Homo sapiens: one gene and its partners. The protein of the gene in region 7 purifies or fractionates together with the protein of the main gene of each other region. This does not show direct contact. Each region holds a gene or a part of one and is shown on either strand. Other genes may lie near its edges. The genes, in order: PPP2R2B, TBC1D4, DCTN4, PPP4R2, USP15, RABL6 and SMC4.

Evidence for each region.
Region 1: the proteins of SMC4 (region 7) and PPP2R2B purify together in Homo sapiens (pull-down; one large-scale study listed by IntAct). This does not show direct contact.
Region 2: the proteins of SMC4 (region 7) and TBC1D4 fractionate together in Homo sapiens (co-fractionation; one large-scale study listed by BioGRID). This does not show direct contact.
Region 3: the proteins of SMC4 (region 7) and DCTN4 fractionate together in Homo sapiens (co-fractionation; one large-scale study listed by BioGRID). This does not show direct contact.
Region 4: the proteins of SMC4 (region 7) and PPP4R2 fractionate together in Homo sapiens (co-fractionation; one large-scale study listed by BioGRID). This does not show direct contact.
Region 5: the proteins of SMC4 (region 7) and USP15 fractionate together in Homo sapiens (co-fractionation; one large-scale study listed by BioGRID). This does not show direct contact.
Region 6: the proteins of SMC4 (region 7) and RABL6 fractionate together in Homo sapiens (co-fractionation; one large-scale study listed by BioGRID). This does not show direct contact.

Annotation. Positions count from the first base shown.
Region 1 is NC_000005.10:146,648,258-146,651,757, forward strand, and holds part of PPP2R2B (serine/threonine-protein phosphatase 2A 55 kDa regulatory subunit B beta isoform), read right to left. Parts: intron 2,468-3,500; coding exon 2,290-2,467; intron 1-2,289. UniProt on the Homo sapiens protein: The B regulatory subunit might modulate substrate selectivity and catalytic activity, and might also direct the localization of the catalytic enzyme to a particular subcellular compartment.
Region 2 is NC_000013.11:75,297,170-75,300,669, forward strand, and holds part of TBC1D4 (TBC1 domain family member 4), read right to left. Parts: intron 2,406-3,500; coding exon 2,161-2,405; intron 1-2,160.
Region 3 is NC_000005.10:150,728,018-150,731,517, forward strand, and holds part of DCTN4 (dynactin subunit 4), read right to left. Parts: intron 3,473-3,500; coding exon 3,399-3,472; intron 3,140-3,398; coding exon 3,027-3,139; intron 2,724-3,026; coding exon 2,614-2,723; intron 1-2,613. UniProt on the Homo sapiens protein: Part of the dynactin complex that activates the molecular motor dynein for ultra-processive transport along microtubules.
Region 4 is NC_000003.12:73,062,811-73,066,254, reverse strand, and holds part of PPP4R2 (serine/threonine-protein phosphatase 4 regulatory subunit 2), read right to left. Parts: coding exon of another isoform or gene 3,355-3,444; exon of another isoform or gene 2,918-3,354; intron 2,583-2,917; coding exon 2,508-2,582; intron 2,253-2,507; coding exon 2,109-2,252; intron 1,404-2,108; coding exon 1,114-1,403; intron 859-1,113; coding exon 533-858; 3' UTR 1-532. Other genes in the region: EBLN2 (endogenous Bornavirus-like nucleoprotein 2), read right to left, coding at 3,355-3,444. UniProt on the Homo sapiens protein: Regulatory subunit of serine/threonine-protein phosphatase 4 (PP4). May regulate the activity of PPP4C at centrosomal microtubule organizing centers.
Region 5 is NC_000012.12:62,385,904-62,389,403, reverse strand, and holds part of USP15 (ubiquitin carboxyl-terminal hydrolase 15), read right to left. Parts: intron 1-3,500. UniProt on the Homo sapiens protein: Hydrolase that removes conjugated ubiquitin from target proteins and regulates various pathways such as the TGF-beta receptor signaling, NF-kappa-B and RNF41/NRDP1-PRKN pathways.
Region 6 is NC_000009.12:136,828,448-136,831,947, reverse strand, and holds part of RABL6 (rab-like protein 6), read right to left. Parts: intron 3,455-3,500; coding exon 3,402-3,454; intron 2,556-3,401; coding exon 2,464-2,555; intron 992-2,463; exon of another isoform or gene 925-991; intron 228-924; coding exon 87-227; intron 1-86. UniProt on the Homo sapiens protein: May enhance cellular proliferation. May reduce growth inhibitory activity of CDKN2A.
Region 7 is NC_000003.12:160,430,650-160,433,051, reverse strand, and holds part of SMC4 (structural maintenance of chromosomes protein 4), read right to left. Parts: coding exon 2,309-2,402; intron 2,021-2,308; coding exon 1,847-2,020; intron 1,410-1,846; coding exon 1,227-1,409; intron 770-1,226; coding exon 537-769; intron 27-536; coding exon 1-26. UniProt on the Homo sapiens protein: Central component of the condensin complex, a complex required for conversion of interphase chromatin into mitotic-like condense chromosomes.

The DNA of each region.
Region 1 (3,500 bases), on a different chromosome or scaffold from region 7:
GGAGCTGCAAATGAAAGAGGCCCGAGTTTCTGAATTACTGATTGGAGGAGGCTGCCTGCTGATGGGGATCATCAATATTAGACTTCATACGAAAATAATCTTTTATTTGTTTGAGCCATTATGGGGTCTATTCTATAAACGAACCTTCAGAGCTTTACTATAACTCTTAAAATTAAATTTCCAGGTTAGATTTTATGAACTGTCTACTGGATAGCGCTACTTTGATGACCTACTATTATTTCGAACTTGACAGGTTCAATAATTTTCTGTATGTCAGAGTGTTCCACGTACTGGAATACAGCAATAGTTCATACAAGGCCCTTGCTCTTGTAGAATTTACATCCTAACATGAGGAAACCAAAAATACATAAGTAAAAAAATTTCAAATCATGGTAAGTACCATGACAATAACAGGGATAGTGTTATTGGTAGCTACTTAAGAGTTAATGGGAAAGAGTACCTCTGGGGCCTGAAGTGACATGTAACTAGCCATGTGAATGCTGTGGGCAAAATATTCTAGAAAGAGGGAACAGCAAATGCAAAGAATGGAAGAATAAGGTTTACTTAGGAACAGAAAAGTGATTAGTTGGCTGAAATGAAGTGAATTAGGGAAGCGTGACAAGACTGGATAACAAAGATGGAGACAGGTTCCAGATCACGCAGAATCTTATAGGCCAAGTTAAATAACTTGGATTTTATTCTGAGTTTAGTGGGAAGCTACTGGAATGTTTTTTATCAGGGAAGGAATGATATTTGAATTACATGTTGAAGGGTTCGTACTGTATAAAAGAGCAAGAATGAATGGAGACCAGATGAGATTATTGCAGTCACAGTGGTGAGAGACAACAGTGGCTTATGCTAGTGTAGGTAGGTAGATAGGGATATATGCGTTGATTTGACATATATTTTAGAGGCAGGGCTCATGGATAGATGGAGTTAGAGTAGGGGAGGCTGGTAAGTGGAAGAGAAAACTCCATATTGATACCTAGGTCAATTGTTCAGTTACCTGAGTTGTTCAGTGCCATTCCTCATAAATCTCATGCCTTAGGTTTGTGAGAAATGGAGCACATGATAGGTATTCAATAAATGACCAATTTTTACTATGAAATAGAGGGTCAACATAGTGGGGGTGAAAATACTGGCCCAGCTATTCAGCATTTTTTTTTTTTACCTTTCTATATATTTTTTATTTTTATTATTTTTTTGAGATGGAGTCTGGCTCTGTCACCCAGACTGGAGTGCAGTGGTACGATCTCGGCTTACTGCAACCTCTGCCTCCTCAGTTCAAGCGATTCTCCTGCCTCAGCCTCCCAAGTAACTGGGACTACAGGCGCCCGCCACCATGCCTGGCTAATTTCTTTTTTGTATTTTTAGTAAAGTTGGGGCCTTGCCACGTTGGCTAAGCTGGTCTTAAACCTCTGACCTGAAGCAATCCACCTACCTAGGCCTCCCAAAGTGCTGGGATTATAAGCATAAGCCACTGCGGCCAGCCGACTTTTCTATATTTTAATTAAACAGGAGATAATGATACTTACATTATGGGGTTGTTTTATCAAATATGTCCTTGGGGGTAGAAATTATTAATATAAAGAGGCATGATGGGGGCTTGAGAATTGTTAGCAAAGTTCTGTTTCTGGATGTCAATGCTGGTTATAGGTGAGTTCAACCTCTGAAATTTCATCAAACTGTATAATTATAATATGTATACTGTACATTTTATCAAACTGTACAATTATAATATGTATACTATACATTTCATCAAACTGTACAATTATAATATGTACTTTTCTATATGCATAATATACTTCAATGAGGTAAAAAATGTAATACTATAAAGTTCCCATTGCAAGTGCTTGGAACTCAATAAATGTCAGTCACTATTATTTTCACTATTATGAGACAATGGAAACCAGTATGTCTGTGGTCCATGCTGTCCATACAGATTTATGAATCCTTTAACAGAGAAAGAACCTGAACTCTAGGGTCTTATCCTATTGTTGATAAAATCACCTCTAATTTTAATTCGTGACATATAAATGCCTCTGTATGAAGGAATTGATTCAGAGTCCCAATCCAGAGCTAGCCCTGGCCTCCCACTTGTAATAACAATATTTCCCTAACTTTATTGTTATGATTAAAGAGTCTCATAGGTGCCAGTGTATTTTAAAAGGGGCAAGTTCTCCGCAAATGCTAGGTGTTGCATTTCTATTCCATATTTTCTCCCAGCCCACTCGCACCTGAATACTCTTAATTCAGGCCAGTTGATTCTTGATCACAAAGAAAGGATACTAAAACTTTGATTGGTTATTTCAAAGTTCCATAGGTTAATCCTCAGGTCATCAGCGGACATGTAGGTTTCATAGTCGCTGTTGACAGATATGGAGTTGATGTGATATGTGTGTGCGTTGGCAAATACTCTTCGTGGGGTGGCCTCCACCATCAGGTCCATGGGTCTCAGGACAGGCACCTGGGATGCAAGAGAAACAAATCACTTCAGAACCAAAGATCTTCCATAGGAAAAGAGTGTGCATGCTAATATCATTTATTATCACACACAAAATAATAGCCACATTGAAGAAACTCCAAGTTAGAGAAAGAAGAGGCTAATAACGAATCACACACTGTTCTTGTTCCATTCTGTTCCTCCTCTTTCAAAAGATATCACCATCACTTAGCCCTGGTGGGAAATTTCATTCTTTATAAATTCTAAACATTTTTCTAAGCCCCTCCAGGTAGCCTCATCTCAGGGGAACTTGGCTTCCATTGTGGAGTCATTACCTTCCAGAGACATTGTTCTATTTTTTTTTTAAACATGAAATCTATTTAAAAAAGGGAGTTGTGGGAAAATTTTAGAAATGTCTAGTTCAACTTTAATCTAAATTTATCTTTTATGTCTTTTCATCTCATGGCTTTGGAAGCTATACCCCTTCCTGGCTTTGTCCTTAATCCTTAAGGGCATTTTGGGAAACTTTAGCATCACCCAAGACTCTAATCGTCCAAATTCAGCCACTAATATATAGGGAACCCAATGACATCTGACTGAGAAAATCTTGGTTTATATTTGTCTTAGAGTGCGAACCAGGTAGTGTCCACTTTTACATGCAAAACTGTCCCAGTTTGAACATTAATGATATGGTCACCTTACTGATACATAAATACTTCTCAGTAAGTATTTGTTGAATGAGTAAGAATACATGATTAAATGATTTCTTTCTGGTGGATCAGAGAATCGGCAACTAAATAGTTTCCCACACATGACCGTCTTTCTGGCAAATGTGAACAAAGACCTATCACTCTTCCTCCTTTGAGTTCTGGGTGAACTGGCTACAAAGAAAGAGAATAAGAACACTAATGCCTGAGAGGGAACAAACTAAAAAAACACCCAAGACAGACAAAACCCCACAACACAGGTGTGGTCACTTAATAGAAACAAGATAATAAAATAACCAAAGCTATTTTCTTTTCAAGCAAATCATTTCTTGCAACTGAGCCCCGACTGA
Region 2 (3,500 bases), on a different chromosome or scaffold from region 7:
AATTATAGACATAAAATACTTCTTGGTACTTACAGTCCATATTAAATGAATGTATAAATCCGATTTACATGAATTTTTGTAATGTCAAATTGATGAATAATTTTTAAGTTGAAATATCATTGTATTTTTAAACTGATAGCTATTATCCTTTTATCTGTGGACCCAGATCAAACACTACTCACAGGTACTTCCCTGTATCTTTGAAATTCTAATAATAGCTACCAAACCGTTGTTTCTGAAAATCAGAATTATTGAATTCCTTACAAGACCATCTGATTCCTATCTGATATTAAGATACAGGTGACCAGGCACAGTGGGTCACGCCTGTAATCCCAGCACTTTGGGAGGTCAAGGCAGGTGGATCACCTGAGGTCCGGAAGTTTGAGACCAGCCTGCCCAACACAGTGAAACCCCAACTCTACTAAAAATACAAAAAATTTAGCAGGGTATGGTAGTGCATGCCTGTAATCCCAGCTACTCGGGAGGCTGAGGCAGGAGAATCACTTGAACCCAGGAGGTGGAGGTTGCAGTGAGCCAAGATCGCGCCACTGCACTCCTGCCTGGGTGACAGAGCAAGACTCCGTCTCCAAAAAAAAAAAAAACGATAAAAAGATAAAAAGATACAGGTAAACTCTTTAGGAATAAAAAATAAAACTTTCCACAGTTGTTATTTGACTTGTTAAACCTACGAATAGTCATCAATGAGGAATCAAATCATATGAACTCACACCAGAAAACCTAATGTTGATAGCAAAGCCCTATCTCCCCAGTCAAAATTTTACCTTCAGAAAGTAAAGAAAAATGGAATACTTCATCTCCATTCATACTCTCAAAAAATATCATTTACTATAACGCTCAGACTAAAAATACAATTCTTTTGTTATACATTGGCAACTGAGATATTAAAGGCAAAAAACTCATCTCTGGGAAACAGAAAAAAATAGTATATTTTAAAAGCATCTTTAAACTATTACTTCTTATCTAAAGCACAGTATTATGATGAACTGGGAGTCATGCATACCTCATTTCAAGGGAGGAAAAACCTGAGAATCCTCTTTAAAGTCTTCTTTTATATTTTTAACCACTGAAAGCTTTAAATTGCCAGGCAGTGGTTGTTTAAGTATCTATAGACAAAATTTAAACTGCTTATTAGCAACCAACCCACTTAGAGAAGTGAAAACTAGGAGAGAAATGTGCAAACAGGGAGTCTGAGGTAGGCTAAAGACAGCAGTGGCAGTTAATACCCCACTCAAAATACCTGGAAAATCTTAATGGTGCTTCTTCAGAGCCTGCTAAGAAAAGCAGACTCAGTGGCTCAAGCCTGTAATCCCAGCATTCTGGGAGGCTGAGGCGGGCGGATCACCTGAGGTCAGGAGTTCAACACCAGCCTGGCCAACATGGTGAAACCCCATCTCTACTAGAAATACAAAAAAATTAGCCAGGCATGGTGGCACCTGCCTGTAATCCCAGCTACTGGGGAGGCTGAGGCAGCAGAATGGCTTGAACCCGGGAGGCAGAGATTGCAGTGAGCCGAGATCGTGCCACTGCACTCCAGCCTGGGCAACAAAGCAAGATTCCATCACACACACACACACATACACACACACACACACAAAGCAGACTGAAAAGGCACCACTGGCTTTCACACTTTTTCCTCTGTAAAGGCCTATCTTACATGAAGATAAAGGAGGGGAGATATCAATGATAAGTTCAAAAAGAACCATAACATGGTATCTGCTATTTGTGTACTCAAAAGTAAAGGGATAAAGATACTTTCAGATTGTAAACAAAAGATCTGTGAGCCTTTTCAACTGAGAAGTTGAGAAAAAGTGAATAAAGATGATTTGATACCTTCTCCATGTAACCCATAGACTTAGGGCATAAAGGACTGGGTCCTCATCACCTACCTTTCTTAAATTACTTATTTACTTACTTCAGGAATTTTATGGAAAAGGTATTCTGCCTCTGGGTCTCATACACTTAGAAGTTTACCTAAATAGCAAATCCCACACTAAGTGAACTAAAACATGCCCCAATCTTTACCCAAGTTCTAAGACAATGGCTCTACATTTCTTTAAATCTGAACTGTAATAATTGAGAAGAGGGCCAGGATTTCTGGTAATAGTCTCACACCTTCCTCGGGAAGCACAAGTGCCTCACCTGCAGCGACATCATGTCAGGTCTGTACTGCTTGCGGAAGCCGAGGTCATACATGAGGAATTTCAGCATTTCAAAGGCTTGCTCTTCACTCATGTGCAGAAGCAGGACTCCAGCCACAAAGCTGATCCCCTGACAGTATCCCACTTCTTTGTCCAGCAAAGAATAGGCTTTCAGGAGGTTAAACAGTGACAGCTGTCCTGGCCCAAGCTGTACTGAAAAGTAAGGGTGAGTAGGAAACGTCCTTCCTGCAGAGGAAAAGAAGGAAAATATTTTTTGAAATGTCCTCATGCCTTGGAGACAACAGTGAAATTGCAATTCAGTGACCTCCAAGAATAAACAGACACTCTTTCCCAAACCAGTGAGAGTTGCTTAGAGTCACCATGTAACTAAGAGTCTCTCCCTCTCTCACCCCAAGTTCTGCCAGGCCACCATACCATCTTCACATATACGATATGGGAGGAAACATTTTATGCTAACCAGTACTTCTTTCCAGCAAAAAAAAAAAAAAAAAAAAAAAAATACAATAAAAATCCACAAACCAATGATGTACCCAGGAGAAATACCAGGAAAATGGAATATAAATTTTATTCTGACTATAAAGCAAGGCAAATTCTAATTCATATAAAGACTACCTTCTAAATGAAACCAGAAGTCTGTAAGACATATTATATTATTTAAAAGAAAATCTTCATAGTCTATAAACAGGTTTATTTCTGCTTTTCTTATGACACTGGAGGGACTTTTTGGGTTTGTTTGACTTTACATTCAGACTGTCATTCAGAAGAAAACTGCTTTTTCAACTATCGTTCGCTCTCTGCTCTTAAAATACCTCCATGAGCCATGTAAACCACTTTTCTTTTTCAATATCTAAAAATATCAAGGAAAATAAAGGGTCAAGTCAATTTCAAATAAATTCCCCTCTAAAATATACCTCTAGGTATAAAATTACCACAGAGACACTTGAGCTGGCAATGTGAGTCCTGCATCACTAAAAGGAGAGTTCTATACACAGAAACAAATCCGTCTTCACATCAAAGCTGTCTATATTGGTATGGGCATTTTTCTAGGGCCACAAAAATGAAGGGGGATGTTAGCTTCCTTGTGAAATGATTACTCATGTCATTTAGAACTTGCAAGAGTGCCAGGTTTTAAAATGTTTTCTCCCACATATGCTTAAAAGTGATTTTTTTTTCTAGGAACCAATAAGATTAATTCTGCAGAGCCAGTAAGAGGAAGATATGAGAAAATAACAATTGCATGCTGAAGAAACACAGATGGCTACAAGCAGAGCCAAATAAGCAATTTTTAAAATTATGGTTTTACTTTCTCACTTAAAATTT
Region 3 (3,500 bases), on a different chromosome or scaffold from region 7:
ATCTAATGATAAAATTCTATAAATTTTCATTTTCCCGTGCAGTTAGGTAGCAAAATAGCTGGTAATTCATAACTTTTACCTATTAAAATATAAACACACAACAAGCAAATGTATTTAAGAGTACTAAATGGAAATAAAGTGTTCAAAAGAGAAAGTCTTGTGTTATTGAGCATCTTAGCCTATTTATTATTATAAAGTATAAATGTGACTTAAATCTTTTCTTGTTAATAAAAACTTTCTTTTAACTGAAAAAGAATTTCATCTTCTGAAAAATGTTCAGACTTACTTTATAATAATCCAGTATATAATCAACCTTTATAAGTGTTCTGTGTGTACTTGAAAAGAATGCATATATTCTGCAGACATTGGGTACAGTAGTCTATATATGCCCATTTGGTCAAGTTTGCTAGATAAATTGTCCAAATGTTCTATATTCTTACTGATTTTCATCTATTTGTTCTCTCGGTTACTGAGAGAAGTATGTCAAAATTTCCCAAAATGATTTGTCCATTTATGTAATTTTCTCAAATGTCGCTTTATATATTTTGAGTCTATTATTCAGTGCACATGACTTTAGACGGTTATATCTTCTTTGTAAATTGAATCTTTTTTTTAAACAAATTATCCCTCTTTTAAAAAAATTAGTGTTTGTCCAATATTTTTCCCACTTCTCTCTACTTTCAACTTTTCTGAGTTCTCATGTTTGTGCTTCTTGTAATAAGCATATAGATGGATCACTGCAATTTGCTTTATTATTTAGACTGACAATGTTTGTCTTTTAATGGAAGCATTTAGTTCATTGGTATTTAATGTAAATACTGATACATCTGGATTTTAATCTACTATCTTACCACACACAATCTTTTTTTTTTTTTTAACAGACAGGGTCTTGCTTCGTCACCCAGGCTGGAGTGCAGTGGTGTGATTACTGCTCACAGCAGCCTCAACTTCCTGGGCTCAAGCAATTCTCCTGCCTCAGCCTCCTGACTTGCTGGGACTACAAGTGTGTGAACCACCACACTGGCTTTTTTTTTTTTTTTTTTTTTTTTTTTTTTTTGGTAGAGACAGGGTCTCACTATGTTGCCTAGGCTGATCTCAAACTCCTGGGCTCAAGTGATCTTCCTGCCTTGGCCTCTCAAAGTGTTGTGATTACAGGCATGAGCCCAGGCTTTCTATTTGAACTACCAATTCAATGTTCCTTTGCCCCTTCTTTTTCTTTCTTTTTATAAAGGTTTTTCATTATAGAAATTTTCTAACGTGTACAAAAATATAGAATGGTATTACAAATCTCTAGGTACCCATCACCCAACTTCAACGATTATCAACTTCGGAATATATATGCAGGACTTGAATCTATGCTCTCAGGTTAAACAAACAAAAAGAATCAGCATCTTGTTATCAAAAATTAGCAACAATGGCCAATCTTGTTTCATTTATACTCTTACCCATTCCTCATCCCTCATTATTTTGCAACAAATATCAGAGACCAAGTCATTTCCTCCATAAATATTTCTGTATGTATCTCCAAAAGATAAAGACATTAAAAAACAAACAAACAAAGTACTATCATTATTCCTAAAAAAGAAAAAATACTTTTTTTTTTTTTTTAAGAGACAGGGTCTTTCTGTGTTGCCTAGGCTGGAGTGCAGTGGCTATTCACAGGCACCATCATCACACACTACAGTCTCAAACTCCTCAGGCTCAAGGGATTCTCCTGCCTCAGCTTCCAGAGTAGCTGGGACTACAAGTGCATGTCACTGTGCCCTGCCCAATAGTTTTTTAATAGCATCGAAAATGCTACCAGTGTTTAAATTTTCTCAAAGATTTCACAAATTTTTCTTTCCTTCTTTCCTCTTTCCCTTCTTCCCTCCTCCCCTGGGCCCTTTCTTTCTGTTTTGTTTGAATCCGAATCTACGTAAACTCTATACATTGTGTTTGGTAAACTTTTAAGTCTCTTCTAATCTAGAGAATGATTAAGTAACATTAGCCACTAGCGACATGTGGTTATTTAAATGAAATTAAAGACTGACTCAGTACCTCAGCTGCACTATCACATTTCATGTGCTCAAGAGCCACATGTGCCTAGTGGCTATCATGCGGGACTGTACAGACACAGAATACTTCCATCACCATAGAAAGTTCTGTTGGATAGTACTCCTCTAAAAGGTTTCTTTTCCATTTTGTTTTTACAATTTATTTATTGAAGAAACTCTGTCATTTGTTCTGTAGATTACCAGAGCCTGGATTTTGCTGATTTTTCTTGCTTTCTTTTAAATTGATTATTTTTTATTGGTCCTCCCTGAGCCTGAACACTAGCCTAAAAGTTCACACTCTTTCACTATTCTTTTAGGGGTTAACCCTATGTACTTAACCTTCAGATACTTCATTTTCTACATTTGTAAAACAGGTTTAACAGTAGTACCTACCTCACAGAGTTGTAAGAGCTGTTTATATTGAAAGCATTTAAAATAGTGCCTGGCAATTAGTATGTTCTCTACAAGTATTTTCTGTATTTAATACATTCCAAAGGTTTTGACATTAGTCAGACACCAGCCACATTTATTTTTGCTTTCCTCTTGTACAAATGGTCAGTCTACAGAATGGAATACTTACACGGCAGCGCAGGGACCGTTTGATCAGAAGATGTTTGTGGCGAGGATAGAGCTGTGAAGCACAGACTGGCTGGAAGTCAGGCTGTAACAGACGCTGCTGAAGGGTTGTTACTAGAAAGAAAGGCAGAAAACAGGCTTAGTTTACAGTGACTTTCAAAATCAGACTTTTATGTACCAGTAATTACACGAAGCATTACTGCCTTTACGAACAGTGTTGTTCATAAAAATGAAAATATAGAAAGTTGACATTTTAGATTTCAAACAATTACCTCTATTACAGCTGTTTTATTTTCTACATATTGTTTTTACTACTAACAGCTATTCCATTAAAAATCTCAAATCACTAGGTACATAAATAACAAAAACAGAATTAGATGTAGACTAGAAACAAAGTAGAAAAACACAGAAAATTACCCTCTGTTAAATTTACTGGTCTTGTATAATAGTCTTCAGGTAGAGGTTCCACTTCATCCACAGCCTGAGCTGGCTCAATCTTTATCTCTTTCTGATCCTCTCCTTCTTTAAGGCTGAAAAATTAAAAAAACAAAACAAAACAAAACAAAAGAGTAATTTCTCACGGATCCACCTGATTATCCTCAGTCTATGATATCAATAATTGAAGTATTCCTCTGTCATAGAATATCTGTATAGCGTAGGTCTTTTCTAAGTATGAGAATCTTCTTTTCCATTGACAACTGTGTGTGTGTGTGTGTTTTAATCTCATTTATTTGATATTCATTTTGATACCTGCTGTTCTCCTCAAAGTCATTTCATGTCTAAACTTACGAAAGTCCGGCAAGGGTACTGATGGATGCACCAGCTCGTGGTCGCTGAAGCCTGGTTCCAAGACCATATTTGTCCTAAACAAAGTTCAGAAATTCCTATTAG
Region 4 (3,444 bases), about 87 Mb from region 7:
TATATATATATATATGTATGTATATATGACTTAAAGTTCCATTGTACGTAGCCAAACAATAAAATCTGGAAACCAGCATGAAACCCTATAATTCACATGTTAAAATGTTGAAACTATGACCAAAATATGAAAACTGCTAGAGCTATCAGAAAGAGACAAGACAAAAAGCTTCTTGCATATGTATAAACTAAATGTGATAATCTCAAAAAACTTTTCAAAATTGTAATTACTTTCCAGTTTAAAAACTTCAATCCTAAATTAAAAAAAAAAAAAAATCTATACACAAACCACTGATTTGCCCAGACCAAAAAAAGAAAGAAAGAAAAGTCAGCGGTAAGGTAAGCAGGACCCAGAGGAGCTGATATTCACAGTTCTTACATGTACAACTCTTTCAGGAATTATCCATAAAGTACTTTATTTTACAACCTGCTTCTCTTGTAAAACTAAAGGTCCATTTTATTACACAAAAGTTTTATACAGTGTTAAAACCAGAACTGTATGTAAAATACTGCATCTAAATGTTTCTAAATAGTTAGTCTTGTTCCATTGGTTCATCGGTGACTTCTGTGGCTTCGTCATCATTTTCCATGGATGATTCTGAAAGAATCTCTCCAGTTTTACTGGAATTGGATCCTACTAATTCTTCTGTTTCACGGCAGTCAGAAGAACTACTACTTACAGGGCCTTCGTTTTCACTACCTTCAGAATGTAGCAAATCTTTCTCAGCTTGAGACACATCAGATTCCTCCATTTGATTATTTTCCTCAGAAGTCTCTTCATTCACAGTTAAGGCATCATCAGATTCTTTTTCTTGATTTTTTCTTTCTGGGATCATTTCTCTTGATGTCATAAAAGACTCTAAAAATAAGCAAATGTTGTTGTAGTTAAATTGTATTTTCAAAATACCTCCACAGTTAAGTTTCATGAATTCTGATATTCTATAGTTCAAATCACATCCCCTGAAATTCAGCAGCAACTACATACAGGTGGGAGAAAAGCCCAACATCAGCATTATAAGGAGTTCCATTACGTAAAATTCTTTCACGAAAAAAATGAAGTACAAGAATTTGAGGATCTCCTTACTCCACCCTTTTACAGATGGTCTCTAAATACCTTCTTCTTCCTCTTCATCCTCTTCTTCATCCTCTTCTGTACAGTGCTGCCGGGTACAACGGCTATCTTTGTCTTTATCCTGAGATGAAGATGATGCTTCTGTTTCTCCTACCATAACTGAAGAAATTTCGCTGGAAGTCGTTTGACTGGCTGTTTCTCTGACTTCACCTTCTTTGTCAAACCTGAGTCTTTTTACCTCATGCCCCTCAGCTTCCACAGCATCTTCATCTGGATGTTTATTTTTCAAAGGGCTCACTGAGGAAACTTCTGATTCAGAGGTCGAAGAGTCACTGTAAATGTTTTTTTAAAGTGTCATTAATAAGATTATTTTCCCCATCTTCTACATCCCCATTTTTAAGGTTAAATAATGTTTTAAATTGTATTTCAGTGTCAAAGTTAAATTATAACACCTGAACAAAGAAAAACACAAGAGAATAATTTCAAGGTAAACTAAACTGTTTGATGAATAATTCCCAGTAGGACTCAGAAAAGCTATATGACCTTTCTGTGCAATTCTCCAGTAAGTTAAATATTCTCCTACAATAAACCCGCAAGTCTTCCATACGGACATACTCTCTTAAGTCCTCTCCCTCATTTAGTCTTCCTTCCCTTAATGTGATACAGAAAATTTGAAGATATAAACAAAAGGTGTCCTTTTATGAACTACAATGAGAAACGACTCACAAAAATCAACTTATTTATAAAGATCATTTCTTTTCAAGTAACTTTCAGAAACAACAAATGAAATGGATCATCATATCTACGTTACTTTTAGACCCTACATAAACAGTCTCCACAAATTAGCAGTTTTAAGTCTTGTCTATGTCCACCTTCAACATTTGCTACAGCTGCAAAGAGAAGCCAGTGCTCCTATAAACCGCATGAAAACCTTGTTCTGTCCCTCAGAACTTATAAATAGTAAGTGATAAGTACTGATTAAATGTTAACTTTAACTTTTAATAAAAACACTGTTTTTAAATATAAAACATACAAACCTGTGATTTTTCTCCTCATTTTGCTGCAAATTTGCCTCTTTGCTGTCTGTGCTCTCAGGCAACCCATTTGTTGTCATGGGGGCTGACAAAGAAACCTTTGGTCGATTAAGTGGCCTGGGTGTCCCAGGCCCATTTATATTAGACCTATAATAAGATAAATGAACATCATTTCCTATTTTTATAAAAAGTCATCCCTCTTAAGGTATGTTGATGTGAATACATCACAGAAGTATTTGCTGCAACTTTGTTTTCAGGCCCATGCCTTACCAAATTAACTAATTCTATGTAGTTCATCCTATGGTGTCCATAAAATGCCCAATTTTTAAAAAGTACACTAAGCCTGCTACTCAAAATCAGGACAATGCAAACTCTGTAGGTATTAAAAATCTAGAATCTCACCTCTCAGTATAGCTTGGTGAATTTCCAGGAAACATAACACCATTCATTCGATTTAAACTATTGGAATTGTTTTTCCTATAAGAAAAGAAAATACACTTGTGGATGACTTAATTTTTTTTTAGATGGAGTCTGGCTCTGTCACCCAAGGTGGAATGGAGTGCAGTGGTGCAATCTCAGCTCACTGCAACCTCCACTTCCCAGGTTCAAGCAATTCTTATGCCTCAGCCTCCCAAGTAGCTGGGATGACAGACGTGTGATGCCATGCGCAGCTATTTTTTTTATTTTTAGTAGAGACGGGGTTTTGCCATGTTGGCCAGGCTAGCCTCAAACTCATGACCTCAAGTGATCGGCCCACCTCGGCCTCCCAAAGTGCTGGGATTACAGGCGTTAAGCCACCACACCTGGACTTTTTTTTTTTTTTTTTTTTTTAAATAATGAGAATTAGTTCATGTTAGGAGTGCATGGATCTATGATTCCACCCAACACTCCCCCCTCAAGATCTTACGGGGTAGATGCCATTTGAAGCAAAGGGAGTGTGATGGTTGATCCTGGTATAACATCAGGAGCTTTAAATCCCAAAAATGTGGGGTTGCTCATCTTGGCCCAGTAGTTTGCCGCTGTTGCTAAGTTTGGGAACATTCGTGGTGACAGCTCCCCAATAATGGGGTGGCAAAGTACACCCCCAAACTCAAAATATTTCCCCAATGCCTTTTTAACCATTGTTTTTTTTCTCCTCAAAGACTGGGATCTCAGACACAATGGCCCGTAGAGCAATGGAGCCATCCATGCACTGATCTAGAAACATTCTCACAGCATTAATAGGTTGTCATCTGTGCTTTCTTGGCAACTAACTTGACTTGCGTAGCTTGTGTAGAGGGGATTCAAAGTCTCCAAATAGAAGTGTGAACATTAATTCTCCAACCCATGGTCTTGAGCT
Region 5 (3,500 bases), on a different chromosome or scaffold from region 7:
TTTATTATTTTGGAAAAAAAATTCAGTAAATGAGAGTGACCTCATGGTTGCTATCTCACATTCATTTGGCATTTGGATTAGTGTTTGTCTCCAATCTTGCCACTATCCTGGGTCCTGTGTGACAATGCCCACATGGATAATTTGTCCTAGTTTTATCATTCCTTGGCTCCTCAATTCAAAGACACTTGCATTAATTCAACCTCAGTCAACTTATTAGATCCTGTCATTACTTGAAACTGCTCCCACTTTTGCTATCTTTTTTTGTTTGTTGTTTAGAGACAGGCTCTCACTCACTCTGTTGCCCAGGCTGGAGTGCAGTGGCATGATCTTGGCTCACCGCAGCCTCAACCTCCCGGGCTCAAGCCATCTTCCGAATTCAGCCTCTTGCGTAGCTAGGACTACATGCGTGTGACACCATGACTGGCTAATTTTTATTTTTTAGAGACAAGGTCTCATTATGTTGCCCAGAATGGTCTCAAAATCCTGGATTCAAGTGACCTTCTGCCTCAGTCTCCCAAAATGCTGGGATTACAGGACTGAGCCACTGCACCCGGCCCCACTTTTAGTATCTTAAACTCGGGTTACTGTCTAACCACTACTTCTTGCTTCTCCTGGAAATTCATTCTTATCTCTTCTTGTCTTGCACAGAGATTTCTATTCCTTTTAACTCTTGTTTTCTCCCAGTTTACCAGCTCCCTACTGTCTTCTAGCCCTTCCATCCAGGCCCTACATGCTTTATCACGAACCTTTAATGTCTTTGTTACTCAATTCTATTCATTCCACTCTTGCTAAACTTTCTCAGAGCTGTTCACATGTGCTGAAGAGAATTTCCCAATTTTAGAGGCTGGTGTGCTACAAATCCACAGTGCCCAATATCAATTGATCCTTTGACAGTACTCAGAAATAATTCTGCATATCACACATGTGGTTATTCTCTCATTTATCTCAATAACTATTTAAAATCTTCATTGGGCTGGGCCCAGTGGCTCACGCCTGTAATCCCAACACTTTGGGAGGCCAAGGCAGGTGAATCGCTTAAGCCCGAAAGTTCGAGACCAGCCTGGATAACATGGCAAAACCCTGTTGCTACAAAAATACAAAAAATTAGCTGGGCTCGGAGGCGCACACCTGTAGTCCCAGCTACTTGGGAGTCTGAGGCGGGAGAATCCCTTGAGCCCAGGAGGCGGAGGTTGCAGTGAGCTGAGATCACACCCTAATGTACTCCAACTTGGGTGACAGAGCAAGACCCTGTCTCATTAACAAAAAAAAAAAAAAAAAAAAAAAAATCTTCACCATTCTTTAGGCTTCCTATTTCACTACTGCTCCCTTAATATCAGCAGAATACCTATTTCATCTCAAAAACAGAAACTACTGGGTGGGAAAATCTCCAACTTCCTGTTCTACTAACTTCTTTGAATCCACATAGGTACTTTTCTGTCTCTTGCAACACATGGAAAGAAAGATGTCTCTCTTCTTATTCAAAGCTAACCTTAGCGTCTATGTTCTAAATCCCATGCTCTTCTGCTTTCTCTGGGACCTAAACCAAGCAATTATTCTTTCTTCCATTTTATCTCAACTCTTGCATAAGCATTGGAATATAAAGTCTCTCAAAAAACAAGGGTACCTCATTGCTTTCCCTCTAATTATCTCCCCTTCTCCTCTATTTTATAAATAACTTTATTAATGATATCTATATTATCATAACTTCCTTATCTCCCATTTACTTCTCAACCCTCTTGCTGGCTTGTCTTCGCCTCTTTATTTAACTTGTTTCCAAGGTTGCCAATAATGTTGTACAACTTATCAGTCTTTATTTTATTGACCTCTTTGTAATATGACTGCTGACCACTTTCTCCTTAAAAAATTCCCTTTCCTTATAACACGACTACTTTTAATTCTTTTCTATTGCTGTGATCATATTCCTCTTTTGAAGTTCTCCTACATTGTTCTTTAGAGTGTTGTCTTTAGCCTTCTTCTCAATTTTATATGCTCTCCTTGGAAGAGGCAACAGTGTCTCCTGATTTGCTTTGGCCAGTCCTGGATTAGCCTGCTATCCTAGTATAATTATTAATGACAGTCCCTTCTATTTTCAAGAGTTCTTGTTTAGATGATAAATCACGGGGTCACCTTAGCCTTAAGTAATCTCATCCTTCTAAAACACTATCATTTTCATAGAGCTGATTGTCCAATTTATAGCTAAAGCAGTCTCTCTCCTTTGGTCTAGATACACAAATTCAATGCCTACTGGATATCTCTACCTAAGTGTTCCTCATGCATCTGTAAGTCAGCATATCCAATACTAAACACAGGTTTGGGTCATGTTAGGCCACCACGTTCAATACTAAAATGGATTCCTTCTTCAACTTGTTCTTCCTATATATTCCACTAAAACAGCACTGCTGTCTCCTCTTTTCCTGTCAAGTAAACTTGGCATCATCTTTGAATATACTTACACATTTTCACTTCCTACATTCAACTGGTTCTTCAAACTGCCATCCTGACAGAGTTGAAGTGTTTGTCATTTGTCTGTCGTCTGATCATTAAAAGCTTCTTACCTGGTCTTAGTACTAAGCCTTTTCTAACTGATCTCTGTGCTACCCAGAATCATCTTTCTGAAACATAATTGTGGCCATATAATATCTATACTTAATAGTCTTTAATGGCTTCCCTAGTTTTTAGGATGAAGTTCAAACTTCCTATACTGGCATCAAAGTTCTTCGTGATCTAGCTCCTGCTTGCCATATTAACTACTGTAGATTACAGAAGTGGGCCATGTCCTCTTCTCCCATAAGTTCTTTGTACATGCCATTATCTTGGCCTATAATGCTTTTATTTCTAGTTTTCACCTGCTTATAACCTAATTGTCCTTCAGAATTTATCACAGGCCTCATAACCAGTTTGGGTAGGTTACTCTGTGTTCTCTTGCAGCACCCTGTCAGAGCAATTTTCACACTGTATGACAAGCTTCTTGAAGAACAAGGACTAGAAACACCATTATATTTCTAGCACCTTGCACAGCATAAGAGCCTAAGATATAATATATATTCAATATTTTTCCTAATAAGCTTCCATGACCTAAATCAACTTCAATGACGGGAAAACTCAACAAATAGGGAAACTCAGCTAATTTCACTTTTCTTACAAGCTGGTCAAAGCATAGTGTTAATGAAATGAGGTGATCATTTTGTATTTGAGTTGTTACTGCCTCTAAATGGAAAAAAGGAAAAAAAAAAAACACAAAACACAAAAACAAACGAATTTCTCTGTGCTAACCATGGCTCTAACCTCCGCAAATTTATATTATTGGTCACCAAATGAGAAAAGTGATAAGTCAATGAAATTCACATTGCTGGAAAAATAATTTAGAGCCCAATTTATGGAAGAGCACTTATCATATACCTTATGGACTAATGTGTAAATTAATGCAATTTGCCACTATTGATATAGATTACCTTATATTATTGGCATGGGAGAATATTATCTCTAACAAATGTGCTGTA
Region 6 (3,500 bases), on a different chromosome or scaffold from region 7:
CCCTCCCTGGGCCTCTGCCTCAGCACCCTCCCCCGCACACCGGAGCACCGGGCAGGGTCCCTCGGGAGCAGGGCCACCGCACCCACCTGTCCAGGTTGTCGATGAAGTCACGCACGTCGTCCGGCAGGATGACTCGGTGCTCGCCCATGTCCCGGTAGTTTCCCAGCACGCACACTGGCACGTGGGTGGGCACTTTTGGAAGCTCCCGGAGAATGTAATTGAAGGTCCTCGGAGAACAGGTGAGGACCTGGCTTAGTTTCAGCCCTGCGACGCCCTGTCCCTCCCTGGAAAGGTGCTGTGCGCCCAGGCCCGAGGATGGTGGCTGCTTCTCATTTCCAACATCCAACCCAGCAGAAGCATGCCTCGTGCATGCAGAGCTAGAGGGAAGTGCCTCGAGGGCCTTCGCACCCCTCAGCCTGCAGCCCCCGCCCGTCCCTCTCCCTGACGGCAGGTACTTGACCGCACCCCACACTGGAACGCCCCTGCCTGTCCCTGCCTTCCCTCAGAGCACCCCATGTCCGCATCCCTACAAAACCACCTCTGGCTTCATCTGTGTCCACCCTCATTCCGCACTGTCCTCTGTGCCCCTTGGTGTCGACCCTGTGGCTGGTCCTCCAGGCTCCCTGCCCACCGGGGCAGCCGAGGACACCCTGGGGTGCCTCTGCGGCTGCCGGTGAAGCGGGCTGTTTGGAGAGCCTTGTCTTAAGCAGACATCTCCTGGCACGGACGGCAAGTCTCCAGAGTCTGCCTGGCGTGGAACTGCCAGTTTCCCAGCTGCGTGGTTTTCCAAATGGCTTGTGAAGAAATAACCAGCGCTTCAAGTGACAAAACTTCCCCACGACTGAAAGCCAACATAAGGGAGTAAAAAATGCAACATCCTGTTTCTAACTTCATTTTCTTTCATTTACACGCAGTCATTTAAACGGGCCCCTCACCAAGGCCGGCCCAGGGGCACCTCTGGCCTCCTAAGCAGGTGGCCTTCTGGTGTCTCCTGCCTCTCGTGGCTGTGAAGGGCCTGCGTGGTGCTTGAAGCCGCTGTCTGAGCCAGTGTTTTCCATCCTTCCTGCTGGGCACCAGGGGCTCCAGACAGAGCATTGCTACCATAGGCATCGCCTGCCCAGGCTGGTGCTGCCAACAGGGTCTCCGGGCCCACAGGTAAGCGCCTTTGCCGCGTCTTCTCAGGCTGGCTCAAGTCTCGCTGTCACTCCCGCCCACTCCTCGCACGGCAGCCCAGGCGGCTGCAGCTCCCTCCAGGCCGTTCCTGTGGCAGCAGTGGGAGGTGCCGTGGAGGCCACACTGTGTCCACACTCAACTTCGCTTGGGAAAAGCCACTTCCCACCCACCAGGCTGGCCTGCTGCCTAGACAGGAGAGGCCGGAGGGAGAGGAGCACCACTGCTCGCCCAGGTGAGGCCAGCGTGTGCGCCCGAGCTGAACTCGTGCCCTGGGGTGGGGCCGCCAGCCCCGTGTGTGGTTCTCCTGCCATCCGTGTGCCACACCCCCACCGAGGGCTCTCCTGAGGGTGCCTGCGGTCAGTCCTTGGTGGTGGTGCTGAAGGCTGGGAGGGCAGGCATGGTTCCCAGCATTGGCAAAGGTTGGCAGAGGCCCAGAGCATGGCTGGTCAGGTGCTTCAAGCCGCCCTCAGGCCTGGGCTGCTGATGCGTGCTGAGTGTGCGGCCCCGTGACAGGCGGTACGCTTAACCCTGGTGTGGGGGTCTTCCCAAGTAAGAGAAGCTGCTGACTAGGCCCCCAGGCCAGACCCACTGCTGGGAAGAGCAGATGCCTGGACGTGTCGGGCATGCTGCTCCTGGTGCTCCGGGCACTGGCTGTGGCTAGGAGGGGCCCTGCACCAGGACACTGGTCTTCACGCGGCCCTCGTTCTTCTAGGAGCCTTGTGCCAAGTGTGCGTCCGCAGCACCCCCCCGCTGGGGCTCCGGTGCGTCCTGGGGGACACTGCACTCCTGAGGAGCTGAGTGGATCCCATGCGACTCCACAGTGGACTCTGGGGGCTTGCGCCTGGTCCCCCAGAGATCGTCCTGTGTGCCACTGCCCTTAGCTGATTTCGCTGTCATCTTCTTGCTAGAATGAATCTTGGCTGTGGGTCCTCCTAGGTCATGAAGACGGAGGTCGCGGGGAGCCCCCAGCACAAGCAGCCACTTGCTTCCGCCAAGTCTCAGATGGGTTTTCAGGAAGAACAGTGGGGCTATGGAAGGTGCGTGCCTTGCCCCAGATGCCTTTTGCAGCCGGCCCACGCCATCCCGCCCCATAGGCACAGGCATAGTCGTTGCCCAGCCCGACATCCAGGCCAGTGCCCCTTGTGGCTGAGCTGCCACAGCTGCCCAGCAAGAGTCCCTCGGTCCTGCAGAACGATGCTGCTCTAACCATTATCTGCTGCACAAAGAGGGCGCCCAAGGGGCTAGGGGGGTGAGAGTCACAGGCAGCTGCCCCCGCCAGCTCCCTCTTACCACTGCTTGGTAATGTCGAACATCATGACCACCCCGTTGCAGTTCTTGTACACGTCCAGGAACTCAGCATCCAGGGCCATTTCAGACTCCGCCTGGGGACAGGAGGGAACAGGTGTGAGACTGGCCCAGGCTGGGCCCCACCCGTGTGGCCCACAGTTTTAGAAAAGGCTGGATAGTCTTCTAATCTGAAAAGATAACAGCCATTTCCATTTGGAAACGATATGCTGAAGAGATGGGATAGCTAAACATAGGTTTGCCCCAAAGGGTCTGACGGTCAACACCAGCCTCGCTGATGGCTCCCTGAACAAGCCTCCTACCCAGGACCTCCCACTGATCACAGCAGTGTCCGCCCCAGGCCTCACGGATAACCAAACCACCACTCGAAAATAGAAGTGGGTGCTGGACTACCAGCTGCCCTCAGCTAGATGTGCGTTCCGGAAGGTTCCAGTGCCCACAAACAGGGTTAGCTGCAGTGCTGTGGGCAGAGTCACTCCACCCCATGCTCTAAAGGGAGTGGGAGGCACCGCACGGAGAGTGCGAGGCCCTGGGTGTGTCGGGCTCAGGTTGGGTTGGCCCCAGGTGGCTCCGGTGAGCGAAACTCACGCCCATGGCGCTGCGAGATGTGTCCTGTGCTTTGAAGGGCCGAGCCCACCGAGACTGGGATAAAAGTTTGGCGAGTTCACTTAAATACCTCTCAGGTCACTCAAATGCAAATAGGGGTCAGTCCAACGTGATGTCTGTCGAGTGCAGGTGAGCCGGCCACCCCCAGATACAGCCATGGCAGTGTGGGGTTTTCAGAGCAGTTGGGAAGGCCAGCGGCCCCCGTGGCCACAGCATAACTGGGGTGGTTGGGGTCAAAAGCGTGTGAAGCGCTGGGCACCGGCTCACGCACCCCGGGGCCCTGAGCCACTGCTACCCACTGTGTACCTGGCACTCACCTCCTGGGGGTCGTTCTCCATCTTTAAGCCGTCGCCTCGCTTTTTGCATTTTCCTTATTTAAAAACAAACAAAAATTACGAGGTGGAACCCCTGGGCCT
Region 7 (2,402 bases):
TCCAACTTTTCTTAGGTGGTCGAACACTGAAATGATTAAGAAAATCATAGTCAAATTACCTGTAAAGCTAAAGTTAAGACTTTGTGATTTGCTTTCCATAATTGAGTTCTACTATCTTTTTTAGGAATCTGTAACTTGCTTTTCACAAATATGAATTCTCTTTTCTGTTATTTTATAAAAACGTTATTGGAGGATGCATACATAGGAGCACATACCAAAGTTTTAAGATTTAAAGAGCAAGCTAAGTATTATACTTCTTGCTATTCTTTCTCCTTATCAAATACAATTTCTCAATCCTCATGTTAAAAATGCCTTGAAAATTTAAGAAAAGATGAACTAGACAAATATTTTGTAAATACTGGCTGTCTGCCCCTGTAAACTGCAAGCATAAATAGCATGCAAGCAAATTAGTATTTACTAGTAAATGAAACAAGTTGTACATCTTGCCTTCACATCCTACCTCCAAGAAATACTGAGTTTGGAGAATATGTAGAAAAAGGTAACAGTGGGATTATAAACTCAGCATAATTACACACCTGAACATGATTCCTTCAGAGAAAGGATCCAAGCTGTCTACAAGCTCGAGTTCGGCGTCCCCTCCCAAAGTAAGCATTTGGTAATTTTCCTTTAATTTATTTGTTATTATATAAAAACCTGCCATAAATTCATTAAGCCTTTGTTTCCGAAGATCTTCATATGCCTGTCTAAAACTGTCTCTTTCATAAGTAATTTTGTCCAATTCTGCTACCCGTTGCAAATACAATTCTTCCTGTGAAAAGATTATGATAGGGAAAATCTATTCAGATAAATTTGATATGATAATTAGCATTGTTAATTATTACTTTGTTTTGAGACGTAGTCTTGCCCTGACGCCCAGGCTGGAGTGCAATGGCGCGATCTCGGCTCACGGCAACCTCCACCTCCCAGGTTCAAGCGATTCTCCTGCCTCAGCCTCCCGAGTACCCGGGATTACAGGCACGTGCCACAACGCCTGGCTAATTTTTTGTATCTTTAATAGAGATGAGGTTTCACTATGTTGGCCCAGCTGGTCTCGAACTCCTGACCTTGTGATCCACCCGCCTTTGGCCTCCCAAAGTGCTGGGATTACAGGCGTGAGCCACCACGCCCGGCCAACAGCATTGTTAATTATACAAAACTAAAGATCAGAATTTAGGCTAAGGACTAAAAAGAACTCCAACTAGTATACATACACAGTTCATTCATACCTTCTTTTTATACTCTGCGATGGCACCGAGGTTTGGTTTCATTTCATGACACCGGGCTTCCAAAAGTGCAATTTGATTTGTTATAGAATCTGGATTCTTGATCGCTTCAAGATCCTCTGGGCTTAGAACCGAAATCTCTTCAATAGGATTATCTTCTATAGGATGCAGTGATATTTTTGAAATCTAAAAGTTCAATTTAGGGGAGAGTTAGAGAAGGCATAATATTACATACAATTCATTGTTTAAAAAAAAATATGACAAATTACACAGCTATGAAAACAACAGGAGTTGTGACTGATTTATCAATTATTTTTCAAAGGACTTCAAGAAAAATAGTTGTAACACTCAAAAGTGTCCATGTAATCTTTTCTTAAATGTCCAGATCAGCCCTAGGGTGAAAGGGTAGTTGTCTAATTCTAATCGTTACTCAGACTTTTCTGTATATAACAATTTATATTGTTATGTCCCCTATAAACCTTAGAAGTGATCACAGAATTAAAAATCACAATGTAGCTCACAAACAAAATTTAAGAACCCCAACCCCCTAAAACAATCCTCCCCAAACCCTCCTTTTTCATAAAGAATATGTTTAAAATTAAACTAAACGGTAACAATCTCACCTCTTTGTGCCAATATTTTATTTTAGAATTATGTTCAGCAATGTGACCATCTATTTGTTCAAGTTTCAACTTAATACTAAGTGCATCTTTTTGAAGAGCATGTTCATTTTCTTGAATAACTTTTAATTCTTGAAGCAGATTGCGATGTTCTTTCTGGATCTCTGGTAAGGATTCCTAAACACCGAAAAGAACTGCTAGATAGAATTTTCCAAATAGAGCCATCATTTTCACATTACAGAGATGAAGGAATTACCAATCTCTCCTCATGCCCCTTCCATTTTAAAATAATTTAAGCATTTAAATTCACAAATTATAGTATTCTTATTGTACAAATAAAAATTGATAGTTATAAAACTTTAAGTCTATGAGTGCTTACTACATTCTAGGCACTGTCATATATCCAGCTCTTTAAATTGGTTCCAGTATCATCCCATCTCCTCTTCAATACAAAGCAACTCATACCTCTGCAGCATTTGTATTCTTTACGACCTCTGCTGCTTTGTCCTCAAGACTTTTCAGCTCTGCTGTTAGGTCATCCACCTCTTTCTCAGTATCT